Linked DNA regions of Homo sapiens: region 1 is linked to region 2. The links come from fine-mapping of genetic effects on gene expression. A gene starts in region 2. The other region holds a variant in brackets. All regions are shown on one strand. Distances are from middle to middle. Region 1 overlaps TNRC6B (trinucleotide repeat containing adaptor 6B). Region 2 holds the start of ADSL (adenylosuccinate lyase).

Region 1 (5,377 bases), 22 kb before region 2:
GCCAGTCGTCAGAATTCCAAACGTAAATAATTTGTGAAGTAGTGAGTAAATTCTAAGTAACATAAAGCTAGGGCCGGGCACAGTGGCCCATGCCTGTAATCCCAGCACTTTGGGAGGCCAAGGCGGGCAGATCACAAGGTCAGGAGATGGAGACCATCTTGGCCAACATGGTAAAACCCTGTCTCTACTAAAACACAAAAAATCAGCCAGGCGTGGGGGCGCATGCCTGTAGTCCCAGCTACTGGGAAGGTTGAGGCAGGGGAATCGCTTGAACCTGGGAAGCAGAGGTTGCAGTGAGCTGAGATCATGCCACTGCCCTCCAGCCTGGTGACAGAGCAAGATTCCATCTCAAAAAAGAAAAAAAACACACAGCTAATAGAATTGCCATTGTTTTTCATAATAGAATCTAGCTGCTTACTCCAGCCTCTTTGCAGATGATGAAATATTGTGGTCTTGGGGGGTAGCAGGGTCTTTGCTTAAATTAGGTGGCGCTAGATCAGACTTTGCCCATCCCCTTCCCTGCCACTGTCAAACTGGTGGACGGAGAAGACCTGACTGCCCTTGGCTGCAGATGCCATGACAGAAAGCCAGACACACTGCAAGCCAGGGATGAGGGGGCTCAGGCAGCGAGGAGCCCCTGAGAAAGAGCAGCACTTCCGGGGACTGAAGCCAGGTTGCTTCGATGCTTTGGGTATGGTCTCTTGCCTCATAACTCACATGGGGAAAGAAAGAGACCATATTTTTCTTTCCTTTTTATCTAAGGCTTTATTTATTTTGTTTTAGAGCAGTTTTAGGATCACAGCCAAATCGAGAGGAAGATACAAAGATTTCTGTCATATCTCCTGCTGCCACACATGAATAGCCTCCACTATTATCAACATCCTCCACCAGAGTGGTGCATTTGTCAAGATTGCTGAACCCCTCCTTATCACCAAAAGTCTGTAGTTTACATTAGAGTTCACTCGGCCTTGTACAGTATATGGTTTTGGACAAATGTATAATGACGGGTATCTACCATTACAGTATCAGAGTCCTCTGCCAGTTCAGTCATCCCTCTTAGCCCCCCACAGACACACACGTTTTTCTTGATAGCTAAGTTGTCTAGAATATATAAATTCCATACACCAAGAAATATCAGAATATAGTATTCTCTAGTAGTCCTTGGTTATCCTGAGTTTTGGTGATGCCTTGTTGGTTTACATCATTACTTCTTAATTACCTGGCGGTCTGGTTGAAATACAAGTTCTGGACCCAGAGGTCTTGGGTGGAGCTTGGACTTTGCATTCTAAAAAGCGTTCATGGATATGGCAGCTTCTAGTCAAAGGACTGCACATTGAATGTCAAGGACTGCAGTCGCTCCCTCCGTATGCTTTAGGATTTTCCTGAGATCCATAGCTCTCTTTCCCTCCCTTCTTCCAGGTGTGTGTTGGGAAACACTACCATCCTTGCTGAGTTTGCCACTGATGATGAAGTCAGCCGCTTTCTGGCACAAGCTCAGCCCCCTACACCTGCAGCAACCCCAAGTGCGCCAGCTGCGGGGTGGCAGTCGCTGGAGACCGGCCAGAACCAGTCAGATCCCGTGGGACCTGCTCTGAATCTTTTTGGTGGGTCCACTGGGCTCGGGCAGTGGAGCAGCAGCGCTGGTGGCAGCAGCGGGGCCGATCTTGCTGGCGCTTCATTGTGGGGGCCCCCAAACTATTCTTCTAGCTTATGGGGAGTCCCAACGGTGGAAGATCCCCATAGGATGGGCAGCCCTGCTCCTTTACTACCTGGTGACCTTCTGGGAGGAGGGTCGGATTCAATCTGAACTTAGAACTTTCAACTCTGACCTCGTGACCTTTTTTGGAACAGCAGCAGCACTAACTTGACCTTTTCGTTTTTTTTTTCAACTTGCAATAAATACATTTTTAAAAGGAAAAAAGAAAACGGAGAGAAAAAAAGGTGGGTCATTGACAGACTGTCTGAGCACATAGTTGCCTCCCTTATAACTTCAGTTTTTTCGTTTGGAATATGAATCCAAAAAGAGAACATATCACTCTTGAAATACTTGAATCATGAACGCCAACCTAGAAAGACAATGTGAAGCAAGTACACATACCATTTAAATTTAAACACAAAAAAATTAAAAAAATTAGTTTCTAGTTTTTCACTTTTTTCATGTTATATGGAAGTTGTTGCTAAGAAACATATATACTGAAAAAAAATAGCTTTTTAACTTTGTTTGCACTGGGTGTGTTTCCGTCCTTAGGTCTACCATGTTTGGGAGGGAGGGAAATTCAAAAGAATTGTTGGGGGAG[G/C]GGGGAGGGAAGACTTGACGGAGCCTCACTTTAAAAACAAAAACACAAAAAACCTAAAAAAAAAAAAAAGGAAAAAATTTGTGATTGGCTGGTTGATAAATACCAGTGTGTTCTGGCACATGTAACTGCCCAGGCATGCTCGTTCTGGTGTGTGTGTGCACGTGTGTTCATGTGCATTCGCGTGCATCCTTCTCTGTCTCTGTGTGTGTGCCTGTGTTCTTCCCTTCTCCCCTGCCCCACCCTGACTTCTCAGAAAGCTGCATCGCTGACAGTCTGCAGGCTGGCTGGCCGGCCCATCTGCTTTTTATTTTATTTTTTTAACTATGAGAACACACAGGCCCGGAGAGCCACTGCTACTAAAGCAACTCCATTGGGCTGCATTAAGATGAACAGAGTGCTTTTTAATGATGAAAGCAGGGAGCTCCTTTCCATTTGCAACTTAGCCTGAATGTGGGGTTTCTCTGGCTGTTCTTTTGACCTAGCAGTAGAGTGGAGCACTGCCAAGTCCAAAAAACTAGAGCAGGAGGTACCTCTTGGAGCAACGGTGTGTTTATTTCTGTTTTTTTTTTTTTTTAAGTGAATGGCCACCAGGCACATCTGAGTATCTGTTAAGTTTCATGCAGGCCTTTTCGTTAGTTTGAAATGGGAACGGAAGATAACTTTTGATGATGCGATGTCTCAAAAACAGAGAAACTTTGTTCCCTCTTTCCTTATGATCAGGTTTGAGAAATTCTTCAAAAAATTAGGTGAAGTTGAGTTACATATTTCTGTTGGTTGGTTCTCTTTTTCATTTTATGAAAACAGAAAAGAATAAGTGGTGAGCAGCCTCCTGAAAGCATCTGCAGCTACTCCCTCTGCTCCTTTCTCGCCGAGCGTTACCTGTGCCAGGCCGTGGCGCGTTACAGCACCAGGCCATCACTGACAGAAACGTTTACTTAACGAATGTTCTTAAACCAGTGTGTACTTCAAGCGTTTCCTTTTGTTTCTCTGTGTTGTGTATTTCCTGTGTATGTGGTTTTGCTTAGGCAGGTATAACTTAGCGAAGACTTTTAAGTATTGCACCTTTTTTTGATTTTTGACCTCTTCCCCCCACCTTGTAATTTTGCTTTTTTAATTTCGGTATTTAAATACTTTTTTTTTTTTTTAAGCATCAATGTAGTAGTACTCTGGGCCGAACAGGGGTCAACGTTTAATCTACAGTTATCACCAACATGTATGTACTTATGTCGGAATCAAAATGTATCAAACTGCTTATTGTGAAGAGAATTATAGCAGACCTGAAGGGGGCGAAAAACCAGATAGGGTGGGGGGATGGATGCCGGTGACGTGCTAGCACTTGTGTGGACATCCCAGTCTGCATTATGCTGTTTAACATAAAGTGCCGACATTTTGTACCAGCAAATACCTGCCCATTCCAACCCTTGGTGGGAGCAGACCTCTACTGTCCTCTGTAACTTGCTGCTATTGAGGACAAGGGAGTTTTTCTTTCTTTAGCGTCTTCAGTGAAGGATACAATACAACAATGCCTAATGTATTTGACTTTTTAGCTTGTGTCTGTGTGTAGGTGGGTGGGTGGGTGTGTATAGGAAAAGCCTAAAACAAGTTATTTGCATTTCAGTGGTTTTGTGAGACAAAGAATGGGAAATTCTGTAGCCCTTCTGGCTTACCCTGTTGATTATAAACCTAGCCTCAAAAGAGATTGACAGGCATGACTCAAGTGAGTGTTCACATATACAAGCCTGCATGAGCCCTCTGTGGGTAGGTGGTCACACTTGGCATCTGCAGCATTGACGTGGCCCCGCTGGGTGCCTTGAGCATGCCCTCTTCCTGCTCTGCAATTTGAATCACCACCGTGCCCCTTCCACCACTGTTCCCCATGCAAAAGCTCTGCTTCCAGCAGCCCCCACTGACCGCTCTCTGTGTGGAGCAAAGTGCTGTCGTGCGGTGACCACCAGGTGAAGAGCAGCTTGTATTCAGACATCTAGAGAAGGTTAAATCTTAGTGTCCCTGGGCCAGGAGCATATCCCAAGGCTCCTGCGAGCCAGTGGCGACCCTGTCCACTGCCGCTCTTGGTTCACTGCTGTGTCCTGCCCCACCCTCCTCTCCTCCTGCCTGTTGGTTCCTTGACCTGCACTATGGGTTAGTTGAGTTCCTTACGATACTACGGTGAAAGCCGGGTGCTAGAGCCCCTCTTGTTTACAAGACATAATGAGGGATTTGAAATATGTAAAAATAAACATGAGAAGCTAAAATGTTCTTCCATCATAAGCTTAAAGGGAAAAAAACTAAAAACTTTAAAAAAAAAAGACCAAAAAGTGCGTATATATATACATATAAATATATATTTTAGATGAAGACTAACTCTGGGAGCATTTAACAGTGTTTTTTGTTTCTGTTTTTAACATTTGTTTTCCTGCTTTAAAATTTGCAAGCATTCTCAGGAATTCTAGGGTAGGAAGCCAGTTTTTTGAAGATGGTTTATTTAACCATATCTTATCCTAGAGAGATGGCTGTTTCTTTCCTGTTAATAAACTTTTACAAGTTCCTGAAACTTCAGAAAGTTTAAACAATTTTTACTTAAAAAAATGTAAAAAGAAAAGTCTCCAAACATTATTGTCATACTGGGGATCACACATTTTAAAACACATAGAAATATTTTTTAAAAATTATCAATTTAGCAGCAACAGGTAAATTCATTATCTTAAAAATATGGGAGAAGGATTAAGCTTTGTAAGAGCTCGATCATGGATTCTTTTGAAATTGTGTGTAGTTTAATGGGAGAGTGTTTGGTGTATATAGATGAGAATGCCATCACTTTGTTCCTTTCCATTTGAGACTGAACTGAAATCTCCCCTAGTAATTTTTATTTTTTTAAAGGAACCCTTCTCCTTGTCCCCACAACCCCAGCAACAAAAGAAAGGAAGGAAGGAAGAAACAACAGCTTAAAAAAAAAAGTAATCTGTAAAATAGTACAGTTGGATTGCTGAGAATCTATGTAAAGAGTTAGGAAATATAGGTTAATAATTTTTGGAACAAATTTTAAATATAGGCATTACTAGAGGAAAATTATCTATGGACTG
Region 2 (5,369 bases):
AACACAGACATGATCTCTTGCCCCACTGAGTTTGCCATCAATGAGCAAGGCAAGCAACACTGAATTCTGGTAAGAGTTTTGAAAGAGATGCCAGGAGGTCTCAGCATCCAGCCGGGCGTGGTGGCTCACGCCTGAAATCCCAGCACTTTGGGAGGCCAAGGTGGGTGGATCACCTGAGGTCAGGAGTTCAAGACCAGCCTGACCAACATGGAGAAACCCCGTCTCTAAAAAAAAAAAAAAAAAAAAAACAACGAAAAAACAAAATTAGCCAGGTGTGGTGGCGCATGCCTGTAATCCCAGCTACTCAGGAGGCTGAGGAGGGAGAATCGCTTGAACCCGGGAGGTGGAGGTTGCGGTGAACAGAGATCACACCATTGCACTCCAGCCTGGTCAACAAGAGTGAAACTCTGTCTTAAAAAAAAATAAATAAATAAATAAAAGAAAAAGAGGCCGGGCACGGTGGCTCATGCCTGTAATCCCAGCACTTAGGGAGGCCGAGAAGGGCAGATCAGAAGGTCGAGACCATCCTGGCCAACACGGTGAAACCCCATCTCTACTAAAAAAAATACAGAAAATTAGCCGGGTGTGGTGGTGGGCGCCTGCAGTCCCAGCTACTAGGGAGGCTGAGGCAGGAGAATGGCGTGAACCCGGGACGGGGAGCTTGCAGTGAGCCGAGATCATGTCACTGAACTCCAGGCTGGGCGACAGAGCGAGACTCTGTCTCAAAAAAAAAAAAAAAAAAAAAAAAAAAAGAAGCCGGGAGGTCACTCAGCATCTAAGAAAGCCCAGAGGTGTGGAGGGAGAACACTGTCATGGGTGCTCCATAGGTTTTTGAGTGAATCTGTGAATGAAAGCAGGAATGGGAAGGTGACTGGAAAAGAAGTTATTGTCAAAGAAAAGATCTTGAAGCCTTGAGATCTAATCATGTACTTTTTTTTTTTTTTTCTTGAGTTGGAGTCACACTTTGTTGCCCAGGCTGGAGTGCAGTGGCACGATCTCGGCTCACTGCAACCTCCACCTCCTGGGTTCAAGTGATTCTCCTGCCTCAGCCTCCTAAGTAGCTGAGATTACAGACACCTGCCACCACGACCTGGCTAATTTTTGTATTTTGAGTAGAGATGGGGTTTCACCATGTTGGCCAGGCTGGTCTCCAACTCCTGACCTCAGGTGATCCACCTGCCTCAGCGTCCCAAAATGCTGGGATTACAGGTGTGAGCCACCGTGCCTGGCCCTTAATCATGTACTTGTAATAGTCTAGAAATATTATGGTTATTGGAAAAGTGAAGTTAACTCTCAGCAAATAAACTGGGAGTTAAAATTGGAATTCCTCCACAGGTCTCATTTTAGTAAGGCACTCAGAAACAAGTAATTTCAAAGCAGCATAGTACTGGGCTCAAGCGATCTTCCCGCCTCGGCCTCTCAAAGTGTTGGGATTACAGGCGTGAGCCACCACACCTGGCTTGAGTGTCTTTAGATTCCTCACGTAAAAGGCAGAGAGCTAGGAGTTAAGTGCAGGTGGAGAGGGTGCAGGCACCCGGCTCTTTTCGTTTGTTTTGTTTTTGAGACAGGGTCTCACTGTTGCCTAAGCTGTAGTGGCAAAATCATGGCTTACTGCAGCCTCAACATCCTGGGCTCAAGTGATTCTCCCACCTCAGCCTCCCAAGTAGCTGGGACTACAGGTGCACACCACCATACCCAGTTAATTTTTGTATTTTTTGTAGAGACAGTGTTTCATCATGTTGCTCAGGCTGGTCTCCAACTCCTGGACTCAAGCGATCTGCCCAGCTCAGCCTCCAAAGTGCTGAGATTATAGGCGTGAGTCACCGTGCCCAGCTGAGACACCTGGCTCTTACAGCTCCAGATGAACCCTTTCCTGTGTGATCACCCCACTGGCACTCCAGACTGAACAACATAGCAAGACCCTGTCAAAAAAAAAAAAAAGGGGGGGGGCCACTTGAGTGTTTCTATTTCTATTTATTTATTTAATTCTTTTATTTTTTGGAGACGGAGTCTCGCTCTGTCGCCCAGGCTGGAGTGCAGTGGCGCGATCTTGGCTCACTGCAACCTCCGCCTTCCGGGTTCAAGAAATTCTCCTGTCTCAGCCTCACAAGTAGCTGAGACTACAGGTACAGGCCGCCATGCCCGACTAATTTTTTGTATTTTAGTAGAGACAGGGTTTCACGTGTTGCCCAGGCTGGTCTCAAACTCCTAAGCTCAGGAAATCTGCCTGCCTCGACCTCCCGAAGTGCTGGGATTACAGGCGTAGGCCACCGCAGCCGGCTCACTGGGGGCGCAGTAAATGCCGATTTCCCTTGGGTATCTTCATTTCTCCTTAGAGCCGAGCTCGGTGCGCCGCGGGCAGGAGTGGGTGGGGCGACAGTAATAAGAGTAACAGCAAGCGTACACACGGCCTTCCAAGTGTGCCAGACACCGCTCTAACACTGAATCCGCACAACCCGAAAGGCAGGCCTTTTTTTTTTTTTTTTTTTTTGCTTTTTGTTTTTTAGAGACGGGAGGGTCTCCCTGTGTTGCCCAGGCTGGTCTCGATCTGTCGGCCTCAAGCGATCCTCCGGTCTGGGGCCCCCACAGTGCTGGGATTACAAGCGTGAGCCACCGCGCCCGGCCAAGGAAGTCTTAATGTACCTCTTTTCAGACAGGAAAACTAAAGTGTAGCGCGGCTAAGTAACGTAGGAAGCATCAATCATGTTTCTGGTCAAAGAAGCGAACCAAGTCAATTCTCAGGCAGAAGCAGCGGAGATTCTCCGCAGCCGGCAGCGCCCAGGGCGCCCGGAACCCAGAGAGCGAGACCGCGTGAAGGAAGTCCCGCCCCGCCCCGTCCTGCCCTGGCCTCCAGGTTTCCGCTTCCGCTCTTCCCTGGTCCAGTCCACCCTGGCGGGGTCGCAGGGTTGGGATGGCGGCTGGAGGCGATCATGGTTCGCCCGACAGCTACCGCTCACCTCTTGCCTCCCGCTATGCCAGCCCGGAGATGTGCTTCGTGTTTAGCGACAGGTATAAATTCCGGACATGGCGGCAGCTGTGGCTGTGGCTGGCGGAGGCCGAGCAGGTAACGGATCCCGGGCTGAGGGGCTGGGCCGGGAGGGACGGGCCCGCCCCAGCACGTGCCGGGCTCTGTTCCGGGCTGGGCTTAGCCACCCCGGAGCTGCGGCCCGGCTATTTTCAGCTGGGTGTTCCCTGTCCTGAGGAGCTGCGGCCCCAGGAAAGCAAGGGCAGGAGATCCGGGAGCCGCCACCTGTTGCCTCACGTGTTCTCAGTCCGAGAGGGTTCGAGACGCGGAGGAGGCTGGGAGAAATTCAGCCTGTAGTTTCAGGGAATTCATTTTGGCCATCCCCGCAGGAGTACGCTGCTAACCACAGACACCGAGCGCTTGTTTCGTACTGTTGTGCTCATTATTTCACTAATCTTTTCTTGTGTAATCCATGAAGATCTTGCAGGCTTGATGGTGTTTTTCCCACATTGCAGGGGAGAACAAAGCCCGGACAGCTTGTTGTTTGCCCTAGCCCATCCAGCTATTAAGAACGGAACTGGGATTTGAACCTGGGTGCACTCCAGAGCCTGAGCTGAGCACGTAGCCCCTTGGTTTTCCACAGTGCCTGTGTAGTTAGTGACAGGACTGGAATGCTTGTTTTCTAGGCCACCGTTTCTGCCTCACTGGCCTCCGCTTTGCCTCTTAGGAGAAGACTCCGGGTAGGGGTTTATTAAACGGGGTTTATAATTTCTTTTCTAAGGGCTGCATAGAGAACTTCTTAGCCCAGCGGTTTCAGAAATAGCTCCAGAAGAGTTGAAGCAAACTGAAGGTGATCCAGAGAGCGATAATGTTTCTCCTCAAGTTTCAGAGGAAAGTGCCACAACGAGCAAGTTGGCAATGCCCTCTCAAACGGCACAGTAAACATGGAAACAATTTGACTTCGGGCCTAGGACCTGTACCATGGAACTCTCCAAACAGGAAACTTTCATTCTAGATTCCCTCCCTCCCCTTATCACTGCCCTCCAAAATATTGGGCGATACACTACAATAATAGCAGACATTCAGATAGTGCCTTCTGAGACCCAGGTCTTAACCCTTTACACATGGTTGCTTATTAATCCTCCAAACAACCCTGAAGAGTAGGTATGAAATACTATGACTGTACCTGTTTTACAGATGGAAGAATGAAGCATCAACTTAATAAACTCTTGGCGTAGATAGCGATAGTAGTAGACCTTAATCATGTGTTGTGGTTTGTGATGTACTAGTGTGTACTCTTTCTATTTCATCTGATATTCTATTCTGTAGATGAGGGTAGTGGTACTCAAGACTTTGCCAGGGTCGCCAAAGCTAGTAAATGGCTTCAAGCTGGAATTGGAATGTAGAGTCTGAGTATGTGTTCTTTGTGTTGGCCTAAAATGCATACAATTTTGGCTTTGGATTATCTGTTAGGGTGTCAAAATTACCATAAATTGCATAATAACTTAGTAGCTAAGAAAAAACTTGGAGAATAAGAGATTAGGAGGAATGCAGAAAATTTGTAGTAAGGAAAGTATGAATTTTGAAAAGATAAATTGCTTGAGGGGAGGAAGCAGTATGGCCGTGCTGCCCTCTGCTGCTTTGCTTTGGAAGGAGCCCAGAGGTGTCATGTCTTCTGTGACTGTAAAGGTTCCAGGCAGTTCTGCCACATGTGGCTGCCGAGTACTTGAAATGCAGCTAGTGTGACTGAGAAACTGACTTTTTACTTTTATTTATATATTTAGGTTTTGAGACTGGGTCTGGCTCTGTCGCCTAGGCTGGAGTGCAGTGGCACAATCTTGGCTCGTTACAACCTCTGCATCCTGGGCTCAAGCTGTCCTCTCACCTCAGCCTCCCAAGCTGGAACTAGAGGTGCACGCCACCACGCCCGGCAAATTTTTGTGTTGTTTTGTAGAGATGGGTCTCACTGTGTTTTCCAGTGCGGTCTAGAACTTCTGGACTCAAGCGATCCACCGACCTTGGCCTCCCAAAGATGTGAGCCACCATACCTGGCCTGACTTTTTACTTATAAATATTTTCCAATACTTTTTAATTAATCAATTTAAATTTAAATAGCCATATCTGGCTAGTAGCTCCTTTCTTGGATAAAAAAGATCTAAGATGCAAGATCCTTCCCGGAGTCACTGTTTGCAAGTTTCAAGTGAGGTTTAAATCAGTTTCACCACTGTTTGTATTCAGCCCTTGGATCTAAGTTCCGAGCTGCCTGTGGGCTGCCAGCTATTTTTTGCAGCCTAATTTTTCCAGTGATGGATGAATGTAAGACATCAATGTGTTTATTTTCTCATCAATATCTCCTGGAATTGCTTTCAGTTGCACTCATTTGCTGTATATAATTTCCTGGCAA

The links.
Region 1: its variant is fine-mapped to the expression of ADSL in whole blood (TOPMed, PIP above 0.99).

Annotation. Positions count from the first base shown.
Region 1 is chr22:40,321,435-40,326,811 of GRCh38, forward strand. TNRC6B (trinucleotide repeat containing adaptor 6B) reads left to right here. Exons shown (of 23, transcript NM_001162501.2): 23 at 1,420-5,377. The coding sequence ends at 1,807. Among named protein-coding and RNA genes, the nearest start is that of ADSL, 22 kb to the right of the region's middle. The variant G/C (reference allele first, on the strand shown) is at 2,298.
Region 2 is chr22:40,343,648-40,349,016 of GRCh38, forward strand. It overlaps ADSL (adenylosuccinate lyase), which reads left to right and starts at 2,853. Exons shown (of 13, transcript NM_000026.4): 1 at 2,853-3,064. The coding sequence starts at 2,912. RefSeq lists silencers at 553-725, 3,106-3,195 and enhancers at 2,368-2,881, 2,882-3,395, 3,396-3,908.